Homo sapiens: one gene and its partners. The protein of the gene in region 3 interacts with the protein of the main gene of each other region in a biochemical or structural test. Each region holds a gene or a part of one and is shown on either strand. Other genes may lie near its edges. The genes, in order: TNFSF13B, TNFSF13 and TNFRSF13B.

Region 1 (7,575 bases), on a different chromosome or scaffold from region 3:
ATTTACAAAAAAATCTACTAAAACTAATCAATGAATTCAGTTAAGTTTCAGGGTACAAGATCAACACTCAAAAATCTGTTGTGTTTCAATATACCAGGAATGAATAATCTAAAAAGGAAATTTTAAAAAAGAATCCCATTTACAGTAGCATCCGTTATGGATTGAATATTTCTGTCACCCAAAATTGATATGTTGAAATTCTAACTTCCAATGTGATGGTATTAGGGGGTGGTGCCTTTGGGAAATAACTAGGCTGTGGTAGCACAGCCTTCAGGATGGGTTAATGTCCTTATAAGAAAAGACACAAGAACTTGCTTTTGTCTCTGTTCTCAGCCATGTGAAAACACAATGAAAAGACCACCATTCACAAACCAAATCTGTTGGCACCTTAATCTTGAATTTTCCAGCCTCCAGAAGTGTGAGAAATACATTTTTATTGTTTAATCCACTCAGTCTAGTGTAATATGTTATAGCAAACTGAACTGACTAAACAGCATTCAAAAGAACATAACACCTAGAAGTAAATTTACCCAAGGACATAAAACACTTTAACACTGAACACTACAAAAGATTGCTATAAGAAATGATAGGACATATAAATAAAAGAGAAGATATCTTGTGTTCATGGATTGATAGATTTAGTTTAAGATGGCAGTAATACTCAGTATTATGTACAGATTCAGTCTAATCCATATACAAATTTCAGTGACCTTTTGTTCTCCAAAATGAAAAAGCCAGCCTTACAATTCATTTGTTATTGCAAAAGAGTATCAAATAGCCAAAACAATCTTAAAAATAAATAACAAGATTGAAGGATTCACTATCCTAAATTTCAAAATTTACTATAACATAACAGTAATCCAAATAGTATAGTGGTCCAGCATAAGGCGAGGTGTATAAAGAAACAAAATAAATTTGAGAGTACAGAAATAAACCCATACATCTACGTACAACTGATTTTTAACAAGTGTGCCAAGACCGTTCAATGTGGAAGAAATCATCTTCTTCAACAAATGATGTTGGGACAACTAGATATCCTCATGCTAAAAGATGATTTTGGACCTCTGCTTCACACCATATACAAAAATGAATTAAAATAGATTAATTACCTAAATATAAGACATAAAACTACAAGACTCTTAGAAGAAAACATATGGGTGAATCATGATGTTGAATTTGGCAATGAGTTCTTCAATGATAACACTAAAATCACAAGAAACAAAAAAAAGATAAATTTTACTTCATTTATCTGATGTACAACACTCTTGTGCCTCAAATGACATTCTCAAGAAAGTAAAAAGATAATCCACAAAAGAGGAGAAAATACTTGCAAATCAGATATTTGATAAGGGTCTTGTATCCATAATATATAAGGAAGTTTTACAACTCAACAACAAAAAGACAAACAACCCAATTAAAACACATGGACAAGGTACTTGAATAGACATTTTTCCAAAGAAGACACCAAAAAGGACATGAAAAGATGCTCAACATCATCAGTCATAAGGAAAATGCAAATAAATAACAGAGATATGGCTTCACACCCAGTAGGAAGGCAATACTAATAAAAACATTGAAAATAAGATGTGTCAGTGAGGATGTGGAAAAATTAGAACACTAGTACATTGCTGGGGGGAAGGCAAAATGTTGCAGCACTGTAGAGAACAGGTTGACATTTTCTCAGCAATTCTACTCATCGATTCATCGATGTATACTCCAAATAATTGAAAAGAGGCACTCAGGAAGTACTTTATGCAAATGTTCACAGGATCACTACTCACAATAGCCAAAAGGTGGAAACAAACCAAATACCCTTAATGAAATTATGGCTTACTTATAATAGAATGATATACATTCATACAGAGGCATGAAGTATGAATACATGCTAGAATGTGGGTGAACCTCAAAACATCATGCTAAGTGAAAGAAGCCAGGCACTAAAAGTCACGTATTGTGTGACTGCCTTTATATAAACCATCTAAAATAGGTGAATCCACAGAGACATAAAGCAGATTGCTGGTACAGGGGCATGGGGAGACAGAGAAATGGTAACTGATTGCTTAATGGATACAGGATTTTCTCTGGGGCTGAAGAAAATATTTTGGAGCTAGAGAGAGTTGGTGGTTGTAAAATATTGTGAATACTACATTACAATGAATTGTGCATTTAATTTTATGTTATATGAATTTAATTTCAATAAAAAGATATAACTGAAAAGGTAGCTACCCCTAGTATTTAGCATTTAGAAGTCTACGCTAACAGAAAAAGCAAAGCAAATAGCCTACATAGTAAGCAACCTCTTTAAAACTATAAAATAGAAACTCTTTTGTTAACATGAAAAACAATACACAGTATAGCACATTATGATGAATAAAAGCCAAATACATTTCTGAAATAAGTAAATGTAAATTGATTTATATCACCCAATAAATGAAAATTATTTTAAGATGATATCAAAAAACAAAGAGCAACTCTGTTTTGCATACATGAGAAACACAGAAAAATTATTTCAGAGAAGTTAAAAGTAAAATTTTGGGCAAAGTCATGCTAGGGAAATGCAATCCAAAAATAAAAGAAAACATTTCAACTTTAATATTGAAAAGATATATCATGGAATTCAAGGCTTTTATACACAAAAAGAACAACCAGCTGGAAAATATAATGAAAGAAAATGTTTCTATTTATCATAGCATTTGAAAAGGTAAAACACTTTGTAATGATATTAATAAGAAATATGCAAGAACTTCTTGAAGAAAATTTCAATACATACTAAAAGAAAAAAAAGGAGACTAAAAAAATATAAATATATATCATGTTCTTGGATTTGATCTGTACATCTGTTATCATGAGGGTATTTTTCTTAATTTATAAATATGAGATTCAACAAAAATAGCACGTATTTTTCTTTTTCTTTTTAACTAAGTAAGCTGATTCTACAGTTCCTATATTTAATAGAAAAAAAAGAAAAATTCTAGAAGTAAAAAGAAAAAATGAGTGAATTAAATTTACCAGAAAATAATACAAAGCCCTAGTAACCAAAATGCCATTTTATTGGGGTGCATAAATAGACATTAAGTCAATATGGTATAACAGAAAAGTATTTAAAAAGTGAAAAAAACATAGACTAAACATGGAATTTAATAAAAGTTAAAGTTAATGTCTTCAAGCAGTCTGGAAAAGATGGGCGATTAAAAAAAGACTGTGATGCCCTCACAGGGGAAAATTAAGTTGGTTTCATACCTTACATCTTATACCAGGATAAATTGCAAATAGATAAAGTATTTAAAGGTAGAAAATAACTATAAAGGTTTCAGAAGGAACACGAGATCTTTCCTTAATACGTTTAAGTGTAAAAGGTCTTTCTAATCACAACCCAAATCCAGAATCCTTTAAAAAAATTGACAAATTTGACAGAAAAAAAAAGTATGCAAAATTAAGACAAATGACAGTATGGGAGGAAATGCTTGCAATTAGTAATATAAAGAATTAATCTGCTTGAGATATAAGGTGCTCACAGAAATCAGTTTAAAAATGACCAAGTCCAACGAAAAAATGGAAAAAAATATGAACAGATGGCTCACAGAAAAAAATAAAAATAGACATGAAAAATTGGAAGAATGTAAAGACAGAAATACAAATGGTTCTTAAAACATACAAAAGAATGGCTTGAAAGAAAGCAAATTAAGAGATGCTATTTTTCACCTGATGCTCTTTTGCTGCAAGTGATAGCATAACACTTTACAACCCCTATAGGACCACTTAGCAATAACTGTCAAAATTCAAAATCTGTCCCACACATAGGCTGACATATGAGAAGTTACGGATGCACACAATTATTTTTCGAAGCACCTGCATTGCAAAAGATGGACACCAAGAAGTCTATTGGTAGGAGACTGGTTAAATACATTCAATTCATACAATGGAATACTATGCTGCTTTTTTTTTCATATGAGGATCTCTGTACACAGGCATCAAAATGTCTGCAATATACATTGTTAAGTAAAGAATGCAGGTTATAATCTCATTTTCAAATCATATGTATTGAAAATATGGTTTTTAAGTGTTTACTATAAGAAAGGAGGGAAGCAGAGCTACATTTGCATTTGTTTGTGTTAACATAGAGGGAGTCTGAAGTCTATGTAGGAAACTGAAAGTGAGGTGAGTGTGGGCAGGAACAGATGGGAAAAGGAGCAATCCACACTCTTCATGCTTTTTTATTTTTTGCAACGTGTGAATGCATTACCTATTCAAAATCTAGATTAAAATTCAAAAAAACAAATGAACAGAAAAGACATGAGACTACACTCTGATAAACCCCTCTTGTCTTTTTCTCTTTTGTGAAGTTTACCTCTGCCCTCACTGTCTGGACAAAAGTATGGGGCAGAGCAAGCATAGGAACTCAAAATATCAGATGAACGTAGCCCCGCTCCTTTGAATCTCCATGTCTCTGGAATACATAACATGATTTCATCTCAAGACCTGATGTTATGTATAATACAATAAGATAATATATACAATATGCTAATAATATTTATATATATAAATTCTTTCCCCAGAAGATAATAATATATTATTATATATAATTATTATAATACATTATATATTATATAATATATAATTACATATAATATGCTAATAATATTAATAATATATTATTATCTTTTCCCAGAAGTCTTCTTATGGACCTGTGCAAGTAAAATGCTTTAGTGAGTACAGCCTTTTTTAACAAAATGCAACCTACCTGCTAAATGCAATCTGCCTGCTAAATGCCCATGCACACTCACATTTATATACTGGTCAAGGGTTTGCTGACATCACAAGGGCAACCTGTCCATCCTAAAGGTTGGAGCACTGCAAGCAAGCATCCCAGGTAATCACCCCAGTTCAGCACCCCTGGATCTGTGGCAAGCAGTCACCACTCCAGGAAGATCACAGCATACTCTCCAGTTCACACGCACATTGGAGTATAGCAGCTGCATAATTTGGTGCAATTTATAGCATTTTGGGGGGTGGGGGAGAGATGTGTAAAGTAAACCTTTTCAAAAGAATTTTTAAAAACTGTAACTTTGGCCCTTAAGATCTTCTGGCTTTCTTTTACTTCTTAGGAAACAGTGTGCTGCTTATTAAAAGTTGCAAACATGATTTAGGAAAATGTTGAACAATAAATAATAGATTTACAAGTAGTTTAGTACTTGTGTTGCATTTAGGACAATTAAAGTCACGCAGAAAAAAACACAGATGAAAAGAGCATGCCAGGGAATCATTACCAGTGCCAACTCACATTCATCATCTGTGCTAGTGTTGTTTTGCCCATTCCTCATCGCCTAGCCTAACCTCCAGATACTCCTGAACTCGTAGTTCGTTCACAACACAAAACTTTCTCCTGCCCCCGCCTGCTTTGCTGCCCTCCACAGCATTTCGTCTCATCTACATTTTACTTGTTCATTTGTGGGTTGTTGGGCCTTTCGTTTGTTTTCTCCTCATCAAGAGGTAAGCTCTTTCAAAGTAGAAAACCATGCATATGGACTTGCGATGGTTTGGCTTAGAATCTTCAACTTTACAAAGGTGTGAAAGCCACATACATTCAGGAGAAATCATACTTCATTCCAGTATTCAAAACACAACATGAGCTACTCAATACTTTACTATAAAATGGGCTTCATGTTAGATGATTTTGCCCAATTGTAGACTAATGTAAGTGTTCTGAGCACATTTATGGTAGGCTAGACTAAGCTATGATATTTGGTAAGTTAGATGTCCTAACTGCTTTTTTCAAGGCCCGTTATTTTCAGCTTAGGATGGGTTTATCAGGACATAACTCCATTGTAAGCCAAGGAGCATTTGTGCATATTTTAGTCACTGATACACCCAGTAAACATACAGTAATTAAAATATTGTATATTCTTAATTAATAAATGTAAACTAAATGAATCAATGAATGTGTGAGTGAACGAATGGTTCTTTTTTAGTACATTTTTGTTCACTAGTTATCTTATATAAACAAATGCTATTATAGAGCATCAATTCCCATTTGCTTTCAGAGAGAGGTCGATACATGATAAAGCAGCATAGTCACAAAAATTTGTGAAAAACTGGATGAAACAAAGTTAAACAAACATTTTTTAAAGTAGGACTACTTAGATTCAATAACTTGCTAATGTGCCTTGTGACTCAAAGAAAAATATGTAAGATGCTGTGTTTCCAAACTTATACGACACTGAAACTCTTATTTCAAGGACCATTTCTCTGGATTAACATTCTAGGTGACACATATTGGGAAATGACATTAAAAGTTGTTTCTTTGTAAACCTGGTTTCAGGCCATTATTATGGAAAACACTTAACTTGTCTAAAATTAAAACTAAAAAAGGCTTCAAATAACTGAAAAATGTAAAACATTCTACCTCTGTGAGAAAACGGTAAATTATCAAGCAATAATTTGATGTTGGAAATTTATTTTAAAAATACAGATTTTTAATAATCTGTTCAGTTTTATTTTCCTCTTTCTATGATTTTTACAATTGAATATAACAGGAGAATTCATATTTGTGAAGATGGTCTTGAGTCATTCTTAAAGATAAAATGCTGTCTAAATAATAAAAATGGAATTTGATTTATTATTGGTTTTTATTTTATTGTAGTTTAATTATTTAACATTTCTAAGTATTCGTGCCTCTAAGGTCATTCTCCTTATTAGATTATTACTTTGGTCTTAATTATTATTTATTCCCAAGTCATTTTGAATAAATGTAGGTTTATTATTTTTTACCTGATTATAAGAAGTTCTGAGATGGCTGATTGATTTTACATGCAATTCAAATACAGTCTTTAGACTTGAAACTTACAAATATTTGGAGTGGACTGAATTCTAAGTGGAAAAAGTACTGGGGATATTTTATTTGTTTTTATTATACTTTAAGTTTTAGGGTACATGTGCACAACATGCAGGTTAGTTTCATATGTATACATGTGCCATGTTGGTGTGCTGCACCCATTAACTCGTCATTTAACAGTAGGTATATCTCCTAATGCTATCCCTCCCCCCTCCCCCCACCCCACAACAGGCCCCGGTGTGTGATGTTCCCCTTCCTGTATCCATGTGTTCTCATTGTTCAGTTCCCACCTATGAGTGAGAACATGCGATAGCTTGCTGAGAATGATGGTTTCCAGCTTCATCCATGTCCCTACAAAGGACATGAACTCATCATTTTTTATGGCTGCATAGTATTCCATAGCGTATATGTGCCACATTTTCTTAATCCAGTCTATCATTGATGGACATTTGGCTTGGTTCCAAGTCTTTGCTATATTTTATTACCTTTTTGTATAGTTGGTGTTTCACTGTCTGCAATCAGTTGCAAGCAGTCTTGAGTGACTAAAAAGCAAAAATTTATCATTTTAGTTACTTGAGTAGAAATAATAAAGAAACTGAGAACACAAAGCTAGAAACCCACTCTTCCAGAAACACTAAATCAATTATACTTTTTACATTGATTGCATGACATTATTCTTAAAGTTACTTTATATTTGCCCATTGATTTATATATATGATATATATATATGAAATTCATGACAT
Region 2 (8,451 bases), 9.4 Mb from region 3:
CTTCCCGGCTCATCTCTCCGGCGACGGCGGCGGCCCCGCCACTCCTGCTGTCTTTAGGCGCAGCCGTCTCAATTCAGGATTCCAACGCTTCTGGGCCGCGTGCCGCGCCGCCGAGCACCCCGCCGCGCCGCCTCTGGCTCTGCTTCAGCTTCAGCTTCCACCTCCACCTCCACCTCCGCCACCGCCGCCACCAGCGCCACCGCCGCCGCCGCCACTCCTCCCCCCCTCCTCCTTCCCCTCCCGCGAGCCCCGGGCCCACCGGCAGCGGTGGCGCACGATTAGTACGTCACACCCGGCGAAGAGCGCCGGCGCGGCCACCAAGCGCGCGGTCCCGTCTACCCGAGGACGCCGGCGCCACGGGACTGGCCAGCCCAGAGCGCTACGCGAGGCTGCGCCTGCGCACATCCGCCGCCCGGCCGCGCGTGGCGGCCCCGCCACTTTCCCTTTTGCGCCGCGCTCTGTCTTCTCCGCGCTCGCGGGCCTGACCCTAGCGGCATCCCCAGTACCTTGATCCGGCGGGGGGCGCGCCACAGGAGAGCCAGGAGGGCGGGAGATCCCCGTACGAGGACCGGGCTGAGGCGAGGCAGTGGGGGAAATGGAGCCGGGGTATCATTCATTCTATTTTATTTAACTTTAAGCAGGGCTTGATCAGAAAGAAGAGCTCAGAGGAGTGAGGCAACACCAACACCAGGGCGTACGATACACCCGAGGCTCCTCCGACACCAGTTCCAGCCCGGAAGGGCTTGGAATGGCCTGCCACGCCGGGGCAATGGAGCGCGTGAAAGCCAAACCTTGGGACCCGAAGAGTAATTTGACTGCGAAGGCACCGTCATCGTCGGGCACCCCCTGTAGACGGGCGCATAATAGCTACATCTCTGGAGATAGTGATGGAAACTGGGGTCCGATAGATGGAGAGAAGGACGTAGGATAAGGCTTCTTGTGGGGTGAAGAGGCAGAGGGCACCTGGAGAGAGGTGTGGCATGGAGAACCAGGGGTTTTCCCTAGCAGAGGGCGGCTTCGTGGACTTCGGCCAACCGGCGGGTGCTTCCCTCGAGCGGCCGCTAGATGGTGGTGCTGTTCTGGATGCTTCCAGTGGGCCCCGACCAGGTCTGGACAATGCCTGGCGCCCGTCCCCCGCCCCTCATCTACACACACGCAAGAATTCGGAGCTCCATGGGGAACAGAAGCAAGATATCCGTAAAATCAAAGTCTAGGGGGTGGGAATGAAAAGGGAAAAGTGAGGAACGGGGAGCCAAACCCAGGAAGACGCCTCTGTTCCTGCACATTCCCTCTCCTTTATATACTCAGCTCTTGGCTGTCTCCAGTATGTACCCACCCTGGTCTTCCAAGCTGGGAGCCACTTTTTATAACACAATCACAGTTTCACAAACCCCAGGAAGGTTCCATGTGGAGAGAGGTTAAGTTTCGCCCTTGCCCGGGGAATTATGACACTCAGAATATCCCCTTGGTGTAAATGGAAGACACCTGAGAAAAGAGAGAAAGTAGATTCGCAGTGAAGCACAGCCATCCAGATGCCCTGTTTCCCCCTGCCTTCTCCAGCTCCACCGTTCCTCTGCCTCCTGTAAGGACCCGGCATTCTGCACTTCACTCCTCAGACCCGCCTCTGTTTAGGTTTCCAACCTCCCTCCTAGCGGTAGCTCCCTGCACTGCTACCCCCGGTCAGAGACGTCCTGCTTTCGGCTGCCCACACGGCTCTCACCTGCGCTATAGCAGCTGTTGTAGGCCCGGTCCGGGTGGGAGGGCATACTTCTTATACATCGGAATAGAGTCTCCTGCCTTCCTTGGCCTTCTCGAGACACCACCTGACCCATGGTGAAAGTCACGTCTTGAAACAGGACCTGGCAGGGAAGGGAGATGTTGAAGAAAACAGGATGGCCTGGCTCAGTTCTGGGAGGCCTCAGGAGCGCTAACGAGGGAAGAAAGAAGGGTCTGCTGGGTTTGGTATGAATAGAGGGGTCAGGAACCCTCAGTAGGGGGCCAAAGAGGCCCTCTGTGAAGCTCAGAGTGTGGCTGGGGTTACCTGGCTATACAGCAGATAAACTCCAGCATCCTGGATTCGGACACCATATCCTTGGGCCTGTAGGCCTCTCCCACGCCTAAGAGCTGGTTGCCACATCACCTCTGTCACATCGGAGTCATCTGGAGGTGAGAGTGTGTCGGTCAGGACTTCTTGGCACTCTCAGGTGCTTTTTGGTTCTTTCCCTTTCACCTATAAGGACCCCTTGAGCCCAAGTGCCAGCCCGAGTTCCTGGTTATTGCCCCTCCCCAAAGCCATTATTTAAAATAGTGCTCACCCTTGGAGGTGGCGTTAATGGGAACCAGGTGCAGGACAGAGTGCTGCTCTGAGGAGAGAAGGAGGGAATCTCAGCCGCATCCACTTTCCCCCGTTGTGCTGTTGGCAGCCTCCACCCTCACCCTGACTCGGGCTTACAATCCCCACGCTGCTTGATCACCTCCCACCCCTGCTGCACCCTGGAAGCCTCACTCTTCTGTTTTTGGGTGAGCACTGCTCTCCTTTTCCGGGATCTCTCCCCATTCTCCCAGGCTTCCAGGGCATCGGAACTCTGCTCATGGAAAGAGGGTCAAGGTTAGGTTAAGATGCGAGGGTCCCAGCCAGCCTGCCTTCCCAGCCCTCCCCTGCCCCCGAGATGCCTCAGATCTCTCACGCACCTTTTCCCAGCACCCTGAGTGTTGGTGCTGGCTGCCCTCCAGGATTTGTTAGGTATGAGAAGCATTAACCTTTAACAGTTTCCTTTCCTGGAATGGCCGCGCCCCTGACTTCCAAACCGGAGACCCTCTCTTGCACCCCCTTGAAACTTTGCAGACCAGGAGGCCCAGAGACCCCCCATGCTAACCATCCTCTCCCAGACACCCTCCTCCCCTCACTCACCTGCTCCGGGAGACTCTGCCAGGGATACCCTTCCCCATTCTGGGAGGGGCCTCCTGTCCCCTGCAGCCGGCTCACCTCTCTCCTGAGGCTCTGCAGCTCTGTTTGTTGGGTCAGCAGAGCCATGGCACAAGCCACGGCCCCCAGAGCTGCCCCCCAACTCAACCAGAGGGCAACTGAGAGTGCCGGCTCTCTGACTGGGCCCCCCATGTTGCCTGGAGGCCCTTTGGGGGCTAGCAAGAAAGGAGATGAGGCTGGCATGAGCTGGGGACCCTGCCAACAGCTGTGGTTTCAAGAGTGGGGTAGCAAGGAGGTGGCGGGGCGGGTAAGGGTACGGGCAGTGGTGCAGAAGGGAAGAAGGTTGTTACGCAAGGAGAAATAAAAAGGAACTTGAAAATAAAAAGGAGGGAGGAGGAAAGCAAGCTAAGGGTACTGTTAGTGCTCCTGGCACTCCGTCGTGGGGCCAGCGTTGCCTTGAGACCCTCCACCCTCCCTCAGCCTCAGGAGAATTAGGTTCCAGTCCCTCTAGGAAGGACAGGGCTGCCAGTGACACCCAGGAGGAACAGGCAGTGCGCAGGAACCCTGGGGCGGCCCCAGGGTTGGGGGAGGGAAGGTTGGCTGGCTAGAGGGCATTGTGCCAGGAGCAGGATGGGGGGCCAAGCTGGGCAGTGTCCAGGGTCAGGGCGAGGGTGGAAGACCCTCGGGGTCAAGCACAGCAGAGATCGCTGGGGCAGTTCACTAGGGGTGACTGAAGGTGGGAAAGGAGGGGTGGGCTCGATGGGGAGGAGAACCAGGGGCACGGAAGCAAGAAACTGGCTGAGTTCTGGGGTTAAGGCTGGGCCGGGTGTGTTGGAATAAGGCCTGCACTACTCCCTGTGCTGAAATTGGCAAGCAGGACTTCCTGTTTCCCGAGAAAAGCTCTTACATAAGGCTCTGGACGAAGAGACAAAGCAGCGGCCTCAAGCCCCCCGGCCACTGCGGGATTCCTCCCCAGCACACAGGGTTCCGGGTTCCCGTGTGCCTGCTGACTCTCAGCCCCTCCTCCAGGCTGGCTCCTGCCCGCCCCACCTCCCAGCCAGGGCCTGTGCCAGCACCTGCTGAATGTCCGAGGCCACCAAGAGGAAGGGCCCCTGCTCCTCCCAGCCAGGAAGGGATTTCCCCGCAGGAGGAAGTCTGCCTCCTAGGCCAAGGAGGCCGCTTCTGCTGTACCTTGGGCGGAGGATTGATTTTTTTCCTGGGCAGTGTGCCTTCCTACCTCTGCTCCCACCTGGGGGCTGGAGGCATGGAGGTCCCCGCCCCCAAGCCTGAACATCATCCCGGAGTTCCAGCTGTGCCGCTCCGCAACGCCCCCCTTCACGTGGCCCCCAGCTACCCTGAGAGTGTCCCCTGAGCCCCAATAAAGAGAGAGACTATGACTTATTCTATTTAATATCCATTTATCAACATTTTGTCACAATAATAATAAAAATAATATCTGTTTTAAAAATCCACAGGGAATTCTCAAGGGAGGAGCTTGTCTTGTTTCTCGCCCCTCACATTTGGGAACTCCTGGCCTAGGCCCAGTCTCTTTGGCTTCCTGCCGCCAGGTCCAGCCCCTCTTAGTGCCTGAAGTGGGGTCTTCTGGACCCATCCTTGCCCACAGAGTACAGTGAACACAATGCCCTGGGGGTCTGTGGCCAGGGGGGAGTCGAGATCACTGGGGGCCTCAAAGGGTCAGGGATTGGGGAGCTAGTGAGGTGGAGAGTGGGCGGTGGGGGAGTTGTAAGATAAGAGTGGGAATACTGTATTTATGTGGGATGGAAAACACGTGAACAGGCCCAGGCAGCCTCTAGAGGGAGGGGCAGGTCTGGAGCAAAGAGCGGCTGAGGGTGGGGCAGAGGGGACCGGGTGCCCAGAGAGCTGTCGAGGGGAGCCGGCAGCCTGGGACGACTGCGGGGAGACCAGGGCCCCTCAGTGAACCTGGAAGAGTCCGAAGTAGGTGAGGAAGGGGGCAGCCTTGAGATGGGCCCAGGGGAGGGTGCGGATCCGCAGGGAGGACCCTGGCCGCAGGGCCAACAGCCCAGACACCTGGCAGAGGCGGAGCTGGGGCCCGAGGGAACTCGCCGCAGTGGCTGAGAATTCCTCCAGGCAGCGCAGGGCCAGCACACCATCCACCAGCAAGTCCAGCTTCAGGTAGACAGCCTTCCCCTCATCAAAGTGCACCTGGGGTGGGGACAACAGGCCGAGTCCAGGCCTCTGCCTGCCCTCGCCTCAATTTCCAATTTCCTCAGCGACGCAGGCATCCCATCCCACCCAAACCCCAACTCACCCTCCCAGCCCTGTAGCTTGTCCCCCACTCTCCTGGCAAACCCTTCGCCACTCTCTTACTGCGTTACCCATGCAGCCAGATGGGGCTTACCTGACAGTACAGGTAGTAGAGCCCAGCCCGGGTGACTATAAACTCCCCGATCTGGCGGTTGTAGCGCAGAGGGCTGGAGCTGTTGATTCTGGCTTCCTCCCAGCCACTCACTGTCCCGTCCACACCTGAACACGGATGCTCAGAGATAAGGAAACGTCTCTCTACAGGACTCCCCCACACTCCCCAGGGATCCATTGAGCATATGAACATTCGGCGCCCACTTTACCCAGAAGACACATAGATCACCCCGGGCAAGGGAGGACCCATCCCCTATGATGCCCATAGTTGACTAGGAAGTTATGTGAAAAAATCTAATGTATATGGCCAGAGACATTCAGGGCAGATTGTCACCTGCAGTCACTTCTGGGGAGAAGAGTAGAACTGAAGGAGAAGCGTGAGGGGATTTAATGTTTTACTTCATGGATATCTATATTATTTGCTTCTTTTATATGGAGGATGTAAACATACATTATCTGAATTAGTACAACTAAAAATAATAAAATGAAACCCAATTGTCCATCAACAAAATGTCTATCCATATAATGGAATATTATTTGGCCATAAAAAGAGTGAAGTACTGATACACACTATGGCACAGATGTGCCTTGAAAACATCATGCTCAGCCAGGTGCAGTGGCTCACGCCTGTCATCCCGGCATTTTGAGAGGCCAAGGTGGGCGGATCACCTGAGGTCGGGAGTTCGAGACCAGCCTGGCCAACAAGGTGAAACCCCGTCTCTACTAAAAATACAAAAACTAGCAGGGCATGGTGGCAGGCACCTGTAATCCTAGCTACATGGGAGGCTGAGGCAGGAGAATTACTTGAACCTGGGATGGGGAGGTTGCAGTGAACCAAGATCATGCCACTGCACTCCAGCCTGGGCAACAGAGCTAGACTCTGTCTCCAAAAAAAAAAAAAAACAAAAAAAACGCTCACTGGGCATTTTTATTTCCACCAATGGGTTCCCACAACCTGTGCTCTGCAGAGTCTCCAGCCCTGAAGTTTCCTTCCCTTCCTTACCCTGCCAACTGCACCATCTGAACAGCAATAGCCCCTCAAACTCATCTCAACCAACACTGAGCTGACCCCCCTCATCCCACTCTTGCTTTACTGTCTGTTTTCCACATTTGGCTTCTGGTTTTGCCACCAGGGGGATATTCAAGCCTCCCTCTCCTTTACCTACATCATTAATCGATCACCAGTTCCTATCTATCCTGCCTCCTAAATAGCTCTCTCCCCTCTCTCCCCCATCTGGTGCCTCTGTCTGGTTTTCACAGCATTCCCTGTTTCCATTCTGGCTTCCTCCAGTTTATTCCCTACACAAAGCCACAGAATGAGTCTCTAAGATGCAGACGTAAGCCCGCCTCGCCTCGCCTTCCTCCTTCCGATGGCTCACCTCAGAATAGTTCCCACATGCCACCGTGTGGCCTGGCTTCTGTCTCCAGCCTCATCCCCATCTCGCTCCTCTAGCACTTTCTGCTTCTGCCACGCTGAACTTAGAGTCCCCCAGCCTCATCATGCTCTGGGCAAACCCGGGGCTTTTGCCCCAGGGGCTGCTTCTGCTTGCACCCACCATTCTTGACCCCTTGCCTGTCTTGTCTTACGCTCCTGCTTCAAGGCCCAGCGGCACCTTGCGATGCAGGGAGAGAATCCCTGACTCCACAGCCATGTCTGTCTTCCCCTGTGTTGCCAGGTATCTTGGCCACTTTTATTATTGTTCTTGTCATATTCCACTGTAATTACAAATTTTTTTTTGAGATGGAGTCTCACTCTTGTCACCCAGGCTGGAGTGCAGTGGCACAATCTCGGCTCACTGCAGCCTCCGCCTCCCGGGTTCAAGTGATTCTCATGCTTCAGCCTCCTGAGTAGCTGGGATTACAGGCATGTGCCACCAAACCTGGCTAATTTTTTTTGTATGTTCCTGTAATTACAAATTTATATGCTTGTTTCCTCTCCTAGACAGTGACTCCTTAAGAGTTGGTCTGAGGCTGGGCACAGTGGCTCACGCCTGTAATCCCAGCACCTTGGGAGGCCAAGGTGGGTGGATCACGAGGTCAGGAGATCGAGACGCTCCTGGCTAACACGGTGAAACCCCGTCTCTACTAAAACATAAAAAAAAAATTAGCCAGGCGTGGTGGCAGGCGCCTGTAGTCCCAGCTACTCGGGAGACTGAGGCAGGAGAATCACTTGAACCCGAGAAGGCTGCAGTGAGCCGAGATGGCGCCACTGCACTCCAGCTGGGGCAACAAGAGCAAAACTCCATCTCAAAAAAAAAAATGGGTCTGACCGGCTGGGCGCGGTGGCTCACGCCTGTAATCCCAGCACTTTGGGAGGCCGAGTTGGGTGGATCACGAGGTCAGGAGATCGAGACCATCCTGGCTAACACGGTGAAACCCCGTCTCTACTAAAAAATAAAAAAAAATTAGCCAGGCGTGGTGGCGGGCGCCTGTAGTCCCAGCTACTTGGGAGGCTGAGGCAGGAGAATGGCATGAACCCAGGAGGCGGAGCTTGCAGTAAGCCGAGATCGCGCCACTACACTCCAGCCTGGGCGACAGAGTGAGACTCCATCTCAAAAAAAAAAAAAAAAAAAAAAAAGAGTCTGGATATTAGTTGCTGTGGGCACCTAGCCTGGCCCCTAGCAAACAGTAGGTCTTCAATGCCTGTTGAGTCAATGAATGAATGAATGTCTGGATAATTGCCAAAATAAGTGGTCTATACAGAGGGGAGGAAGGCTGATCTGGGCATGAAGAGTAGGGAGGGCAGAGAAGAGAGGGCATTCCTAGCTACGAAGCCAGCCTAAGCAAAGGCTGCTTGTAGCCTAAGGGCATGGTGTGCCCAGGAGCACGGAGGGCTTGCCTGGTATATCACTTGTCTCCAGCCACAAACCTCACCTGGACATTCCGTCCTGCCTGGCAATCTTACATTCCCCCACGAAGCTTGCTTTCATAATCAGCAAGTTGAGATTTTGTACCATTTCTCCTCAAATCTCCTGTCTCCATCTCCCTAGTTGTCCAGAGGACCTAGAAGTCATCGAGCAAAGGTTCCCTCATCTCCCCCCAGCAAATCTACAAACCCACCTGGTCTCTTGTTCTCCTTTGACCCTCTGGTAATGGTGGGAGATGTGTCCTCTCTTCTTTCTGGAAAC
Region 3 (7,452 bases):
GTGGCAGACATGAGGGAGCTCAAAGAGACCACAGCACCTGCAGGGATGTGGGTCTTTAGGGCCAAAATACCACGGACATGCTAGTGCAGAGTGGAACCATCTCCCTGGGAAATATTGATCAACAGGCCAGTGTTGCCTTTCTTCAAACAATTTAACTTAAGGAGCTCATGCCCCTCAAGGTGACAAAGACGGTAAAATGTGAATTAAATGAGCAGATGTTACGTGTTTAGAACAGTGCCCTAAGTTTTCCCTGTTGTTACTCCCAATGATCACTGTAGGAGTTCATTTCAAAAGCTAAGAACTGTCCGGCAGGCTATACTAAATGGAAAAGGTGGCATGCTAAACAGCAACCTTGATCTGTATAAGCCAGCAGTTGTGTTAAAAAAAAAAAAAAAAGGTATGGAGGGGGAGGGAGAGGTGAAATATATCCTCTAGCGACACGCACATGCTCAGAAATGCCTAGGCTTTGCTGGGAGGCTGTATGAACAAGGTCCACTAAGGGTTGCCGCCTTTGAGTAGGGACATCATGGGCCTAGGATAACCAGACAGGAGAGAAATTTACTTCCGCCATATTCTTTTACTGCTTGAATTTTTTTCTTTACTATGTGTGCATTTTAACTCGCTAATTATACATATATAAATGAACCAGGTCCAAAACCTTAAGGTATATGAGTTATCTCTACTCTGGGTTCTAAATCTCTTCTGTCACCTTGGCTGTGGAGCTTAAAATTAGAATCCCGCATCCTCTTGGGAGACAGCTCAAAAAAAGGCTGGTCTCAGAATGAGCTTTAGAAACCTCCAGCACCTGTTCAATCTTCTGGGGGAGCCAGTGCAGAGGGGGAATCTATTTTTGTGTTTCATGAAACGATCCCATTTGTATGTTTCCATTTATACAAAGTTTGGGGAACAAGCAAAATGAATCTGTGGTGGCAGGAGTCAGAATTGTGACTCTCTTGGGGATGGAGTGGGGTGTGCTGGCTGGAAGGGGCAGTGAGGGACCTTCTGGGGGCTGTGCATGCTCTGAGTTGTGATCTGAGTTGTGGTTGCCTGGGTGTGCATGTATGAGAACACTTACTGAACTTCCCATTTTAAAAGGGTGCATTTCACTGTCTGTAAATTACACCATCTAATTAAAGAAAATAGAAAGCAAATTAAATCCATTCTCTGTAAACTGCATTTGAGCAAAAGCATTAACAAGCTGTGATTGGCAGTAAGACATTAGGGAACTCTGTCATTCAATTCTCAGCCACTCCCCAAATCAGGCTGGATTTTGTTTGTTTTTCATTTCAGGCATAACAGGTATTGGCTTTAAAACTCCAGGACAATGTGTGTGGCTGCAGAGAGCAGCATTCAGTCCCATGGAAGCACAGTCTGGAAGCACAGTCTGCTCACTGGACAAAGCTGAACTTGCTGTCTTTCCTTCTTCTCCTTCCTTCTCCTCTTTCTCCTTCTCCTTCTTCTTCCTCCTCCTCCTTTTTTTGCGACAGGTTCTCATTCTGTAGCCCAGGCTGGAGTGCAGTGGTGTGATCATAGCTCACTGTAGCCTTGAACTCCTGAGCTCCAGCCCAGTGTTGCAATCCTCCAGCCTCCCAAGTTGCTAGGACTACGGGTGCACACCACCACACCCAGCTAATTAAAAAAAAAATTAGGCTGGGTGCAGTGGCTAACGCCTGTAATCCCAGCACTTTGGGAGGCCAAGACGGGTAGATCACTTGAGGTCAGGAGTTCGAGACCAGCCTGGACAACATGGTGAAACCCTGTCTCCAATAAAAATACAAAAATTAGCCGGGAGTGGTGGCTCACTCCTCTAGTCCCAGCTACTCAGGAGGCTGAGGCACGAGAATCGCTTGAACCCAGGAGGTGGAGGTTGTAGTGAGCTGAGATCACGCCACCACACTCCAGCCTGGGCAACAGAGTGAGACTCGGTCTCAAAAAAAAAAAAATTATAGAGACAGGGTCGCTATGTTGCCCAGGCTAGAGCTGAGCTTTCTAACCATCAGAGCTACCCCCCAGGGAGCCAGCTGCTCCGTGAGGTGGTGAGAGCCCTGACCCTGGGGGTATGCAAACAGGAGGTGAGGGGGGACTCAGTGAGGGCATCCTGTAGTGACTTTGGGCTTGCCCATTTCAACAGGCAGAAAGTTCCTGGCAATGGGATCTCTTTCTTACCTCTCTCTTAGAAATCCACTGCCAGAGCCCAGCTATGGTTTTGTCACTGTTCATTGACACAAGTAATTAAATGTAAACAAGTAATTAAATGTAAAACCCCTACAAATGTAAAAGCCCTAAATGTAAAATGTTTAGCCCTACAAATAGGGCTAAAGTCCCCTTTGACGGTCACCCCCAGTCCTGGTTCCCTCTTGCCCCACCCGGCGAGAGCCAGTTTCGTCATGCATGTCTTTGCAGACTTCTTATGCTTCACAGTCATGTGTGCGTGATCACAGACAACACAGCGCTGTACTGTGTGTGTGTGTGTGTGCATGTTGTTTGCTTTTGGTTTTGTTTTACTAAAAGGCATCATGCTGTAAGGCTCATGCTATAAGCTACTTTTATTTACTCAGCGTCTGTCCTGAAAGCTTCGAGATTTCTCATTCTTTTAACTGTGCAATAGATTCCTGGCTCTGGCCTGTGCACCCTGCTTATTCAGGCATCCTCTGCTGCATGGACATTTACATTGTTTCCCGTTTCTCGCTGTCATGAGGAGGCTCACGGAGGAGGAGAATTTCTGGGGGGTGGGTTAGGTGTGTGTTGTGCATTTAACTGACCCTGGCTGGTTACTCTCCAGAACGCTGCTGCCAGCTCCCTCCCTCCAGTGGGCCCTGAGTTCATGCTTCTGTAGATCACCCCCCTGCCCTTGATGTTACCAACTTTAAAACTTTGCAACCTGATGGCTGAAAGTTAGTTTTTCATTGTTCAGTTGTTTTTCTGATTTTTGGGAGACTGGACATTTTCCTGTGTTTGCTGACCGTCTGCATCTCCTCTCCTGCTCTGTGCACCATCACCCTGCTCCAGCTGCTTCCTGCAGCCTCCCTCCTTCCTCTCCACCTCTCCATGTCCTCCTCGTCCTTCAGTTTCTTCCTAAGGGCCCATGGGCTTTCTTTGGCTTTTACGTTCCTCTCACTCCGCCTTTGGCTGTTGCTGGGCCTCCCATCCCCTGGGAGGTTTCAGACGATGGGGAAGACACAGGAGTGCAGTCGCCATGCAGTGCAATACGGGCTGTAATGTTCCTCCTCCACGGCCTTTATTGAGGACTTACTGTGTGCCAAGAACCTGCTCTAAGAATGTAACTGTGCTCCCTCCCTCATTTCATGCTCATAACCGCCTGTGAGGCGGGCAATGTTCTCATCCTTTTTTTTTTTTTTTTTTTTGAGATGGCATCTCTGTTGCCCAGGCTGGAGTGCAATGGCACGATCTCGGCTCACTACAACCTCTGACTCCCAGGTTCATTCTCCTGCCACAGCCTCCCAAATAGATGGGACTACAGGCACGCGCCACCACACCCGGCTAATTTTTTGTATTTTTTTTTAGTAGAGATGGGGTTTCACCGTGTTGCCCAGGATGGTCTCGAACTCCTGAGCTCAGACAATCCACCTGCCTCGGCCTCCCAAAGTGCTAGGATTACAGGCGTGAGCCACCATGCCCGACCTCATCCTTGTTTTACACAGAGAACATGGAGGCACAGAAGAGTTCCATAAATTGCCACCAAGGCCTTCTGCTAGTATGCAGCAGAGTCAAGATTCAAACGCAGGCTGTCCGGTCCTGGGGTTCAGCCTCTCCAGTGCTCTGCTAGGTGTTGGAGAGGGTCAAGGAGATACAGAGAATGAGTACCACCTGACAGGCTGGGACAGTCAGGGATGGCTTCCTGGAGGAGGTGACACCTCAATGGAGCCTTGAAGGAAGAGCAGGAGGAGCCGACCAGGCAATGAATAGAATAAGTATACCCAGGAAGAGGGAAAGGCCTGAGTGATGCTGGGAGGGTGGAGAGCTGGCCTGGCTTGGGGTGTGTGCCGGCGGGCAGGAGATGAGGACCAAGGGATGGCCAAGGCCAGATCTAGAAGAGCCTGGGCCATCCCATAGTCAATACCTCATCGCAAGGCCCGGCAGGCCTTCCACTGCTCTGTGTGTACCCCATGGGACGCCAGGAGCCTGGGCCGCAGCCACCCACCTGGGCTCCTGAGACCCAATGCACAGGCATGGGGGCGGGAGTGGGTGTGGCTGATTTACATCCAACAGGTTGAGGGGAAAACCCAGGAAGTGCAGCCCAAGCACTAATCAAATCTAAGACTAGTAATAAGCATCCTGAGTAATGAGTGGCCTGGGCCGGAGCAGGCGAGGTGGCCGGAGCCGTGTGGACCAGGAGGAGCGCTGTGAGTAGCCGGGCAGGAGGGCAGGAGGGCAGGTGGGAGGTGTGAGGAGGGTTGGGCCTGAGTGCCGTGGGGGTTGCAAGGTCCAGCAGGTGCAAAGCCCACAGCAGATCCACACACTGGGGCAGTCCCAGCCTCCCCAAGCTCCTGCACATGGAGAGCCCCGAGTCTGGATGCCTCTGGGATGTGGGGCTTGCCTTCCGTGACAGAAGCCACTGAGGTTGCAGGGTTGGCCACACCGGCAGGAATTCCCTTTGTCACCATGGCCCCTGCACAGCCCCCATTTTCCCCCTTACATGCCCGCTGGACCATTTTAATGCTAATCTCAAATACCAGATTGTTTGAGTTGTGGAGACCACAGGATTTATTCCTTAAGAACACAAACCCTAAAAACAAAACAAAAAACTAAGCATCATACCTTCACCCCTGCTGAAACAACAATTCCTGAACATCATCACATAGCCCGCCAGGGTTCAAACTGTACCAACTGTCTCACCAATGTCTTTCTCAGTTGACTTGTTCAAATCAGCCTGTCCCACATTAGACTTTTGGCTATGTTTTAATCTATAACAGTTTCCACCCATTTTTTCTGTTATATATTTATATTTATATTTATCCTATAGCTTTCTTTTTTTTTGTTTTGTTGTTTTGTTTTTGTTTTTGTTTTTTGAGACAGAGTCTTGCTCTGTCACCCAGGTTGGAGTGCAATGGCATGATCTCGGCTTTCTGCAACCTCCGCCTCCCGGGTTCAAGCCATTCTCCTGCCTCAGCCTCCCGAGTGGCTGAGATTATAGGTGCCCACCACCACGCCCGGCTAATTTTTTGTATTTTTAGTAGAGATAGGCTTTCGCCACGTTGGCCAGGCTGATCTCAAACTCCTGACCTCAGGTGATCCACCTGCCTCAGCCTCCCAAAGTATTGGGATTACAGGCATGAGCCACGGCACCCGGCCCGTATAGCATTTTCATCAGGGTGGGTTTCTAAGGTTTTATGAAAGGGCCCCAGGTCCTTTAGTGCAGACAGAACCCATGGCCAGATGGACCCGGGGCACAGCCTAGATTCACAGCCTCTGCCTGCTGCTCTGTCCCACACCTCAGGCAGGGAGCAAATTTGTTCTTCAGTCCTTTTTTGTGTCCAGCCACCAAGTCCCCAGAATCTACACAGCCAGGGGCTCAAATATGTAAAGTTTCTGAGAGACTTGGACAAGGCAGTGACCAGAGGCTGCCTTAACACAGGATGAAATTGCCCAGTGCTCTGGGGCCACGAGTCAGGACCCAGCTAGAACTGTGACCTGGCAGTGGCAGAAGCTGTCTGGTGCTGCCGAATCAGCCCTGGCCGGTTGTCCACTGGCCCACTCTGGGACCTTGGCTGAGCCGCTTCCCCTCAGTGTAAAATGAAGAAGACTGTCTTTCCTACCAGACATCCCTCAAACACACAAAAGTGCTTTGATGAAACTACCAGACCCCCTCTTGGGGAGTCATGAGGAAAGGCTCTGAGAAGCCCTGCGGTTAAAAAACTGCCTTGACTTTCTTTAACCCAGTGTTTTTCAAACTAATCCGACCACAGAGCTCTTTCTTGGTGCAGCACCTGTTAACCGGCCAAGCCCGTGAGGAGGCACAAGCAGAGGGCTCTGAGAATCACCCTCCTTGGCTGCTCTCTGGTCTCGGGGTGCAGGAGAGAGTCTCCATCCTGCATCCAAATTTGTGGCGGCCCAGAGTCTGAGCCCAGCCCACACAGCTAGTGTCAGAGAGGTGTTCCCTTTCTTCCCTTTCCATCAACGAAGCTTCTCTCTCAAGCTTCTATTCTGCCTGGCTGGTGTCAGTCATGGGGTTTTCCTGCCCTCCTTTGGCACTTGATGATGGTTCTGGGATTTTATGTAGGTCCACATGGTGGTAGAGGAGGGGGCGGGGACAGGCCCTCTGGTCAGCTTGGCATCTGCTGTCTGGTCAGTCAGGCACTGTCTCTCTGTCAGGTCCAGTGGCTTTTGGTGGCTTTGGTCCAGGCAATGAATGGGTCTTGGAACATCTCCAAGGCTGCCCTTGTCACATAGAACGTCCTGCCCACCTTCCACTCAACCAACCCTTCACGGTGATATGCGGCGGGTGGTGGCTTTCTCCCTCTTTGCTCCCCAACCCAAAAGTGGGGAGAATCGGGTCTGCCTTTAATTTTGTTTGATCCTTTGATTTTAGATTTGCCTTTGAATAGATAGTATAGTCAGATGGTTTGAAACCCAGAAAGTATTGAAAGATATATAATAGAAAGTCTTTTCTTCCTCCTTGTCCTCCATCTGCCCAGTTCCCACCTCCCCTAGAATAAGCAGCTTTATTTACATATAACTTACATGCCATGAAATTCACCTGTGTAAAGCATACAAGTCTGTGTTTTTAGTATATTTACAGAGTTGTGCAACCATCACCATAAGCTAATTTTGGAAGATTTTGATGACCCCAAAAAGAAACTTTGTCAGTCTTCATTCCTCCCTAGCCCCAGGCTAATCTACTCTCTGTCTCTATAGATTTGCCTGTTTTGGACATTTTCCATAAATGGAATCATATGTGATGTATTGTGACTAGCTGCTTCCACTTGGCATAATGTTTTCAAGGGCCGTCCATGTTGTAGCAGGTATCAGTACTTGCTTCAGTTTTGTGGCCAAGTAACATTCCACTTTATGGATATGTCATGTGGCTTTTCCAGTCATCGGTGGATGGACATTTGGGTTGTTTCTACTTTTTTTGTCACTGTGATTATTAAGAAAGCTTCTATGAACTTTTGGATTCAAGTTTTGGGTGAACATGTCTTCATTTCTCTTAAGTAGATAGATACCTACAAGTGGAATTGCTGGGTCATATGATAAATTCTATGTTTAACATTTTAAGGAACTGCAAAATGCTTTCCAAAGCAGCTGCACTATTTTATAATTCACTTCATGCATGAGGGTTCCAATTTCTCCACATCTTCACCGACATTTGTCATTGACTGTCTTTCTCATTCTAGCCATCCCAAGGGGTGTGAGGTGGTATCTCACTGTGGTTTGGATTTGCATTTCCCTAGTGACAAATGATGTTAAGCATCTTTTCATGTGCTTCTTTAG

The links.
Region 1: the proteins of TNFRSF13B (region 3) and TNFSF13B form a complex in vitro, tested with the Homo sapiens proteins (3 studies listed by BioGRID and IntAct, with this or other methods).
Region 2: the proteins of TNFRSF13B (region 3) and TNFSF13 form a complex in vitro, tested with the Homo sapiens proteins (2 studies listed by BioGRID and IntAct).

Annotation. Positions count from the first base shown.
Region 1 is NC_000013.11:108,286,602-108,294,176, reverse strand, and holds part of TNFSF13B (tumor necrosis factor ligand superfamily member 13B), read right to left. Parts: intron 7,375-7,575; coding exon 7,318-7,374; intron 1-7,317. UniProt on the Homo sapiens protein: Cytokine that binds to TNFRSF13B/TACI and TNFRSF17/BCMA. TNFSF13/APRIL binds to the same 2 receptors. Together, they form a 2 ligands -2 receptors pathway involved in the stimulation of B- and T-cell function and the regulation of humoral immunity.
Region 2 is NC_000017.11:7,553,758-7,562,208, reverse strand, and holds TNFSF13 (tumor necrosis factor ligand superfamily member 13 isoform alpha precursor), read right to left. Parts: upstream 3,460-8,451; 5' UTR 3,170-3,459; coding exon 2,912-3,169; intron 2,586-2,911; coding exon 2,507-2,585; intron 2,364-2,506; coding exon 2,316-2,363; intron 2,161-2,315; coding exon 2,042-2,160; intron 1,860-2,041; coding exon 1,721-1,859; intron 1,486-1,720; coding exon 1,376-1,485; 3' UTR 1,211-1,375; coding exon of another isoform or gene 1,204-1,210; 3' UTR 608-1,203; downstream 1-607. Other genes in the region: TNFSF12 (tumor necrosis factor ligand superfamily member 12 proprotein), read right to left, coding at 4,859-5,110, 5,307-5,431; TNFSF12-TNFSF13 protein, read right to left, coding at 1,376-1,485, 1,721-1,859, 2,042-2,160, 2,316-2,363, 2,507-2,585, 5,307-5,431. UniProt on the Homo sapiens protein: Cytokine that binds to TNFRSF13B/TACI and to TNFRSF17/BCMA. Plays a role in the regulation of tumor cell growth. May be involved in monocyte/macrophage-mediated immunological processes.
Region 3 is NC_000017.11:16,968,927-16,976,378, reverse strand, and holds the start of TNFRSF13B (tumor necrosis factor receptor superfamily member 13B), read left to right. Parts: upstream 1-4,260; 5' UTR 4,261-4,303; coding exon 4,304-4,364; intron 4,365-7,452. UniProt on the Homo sapiens protein: Receptor for TNFSF13/APRIL and TNFSF13B/TALL1/BAFF/BLYS that binds both ligands with similar high affinity. Mediates calcineurin-dependent activation of NF-AT, as well as activation of NF-kappa-B and AP-1.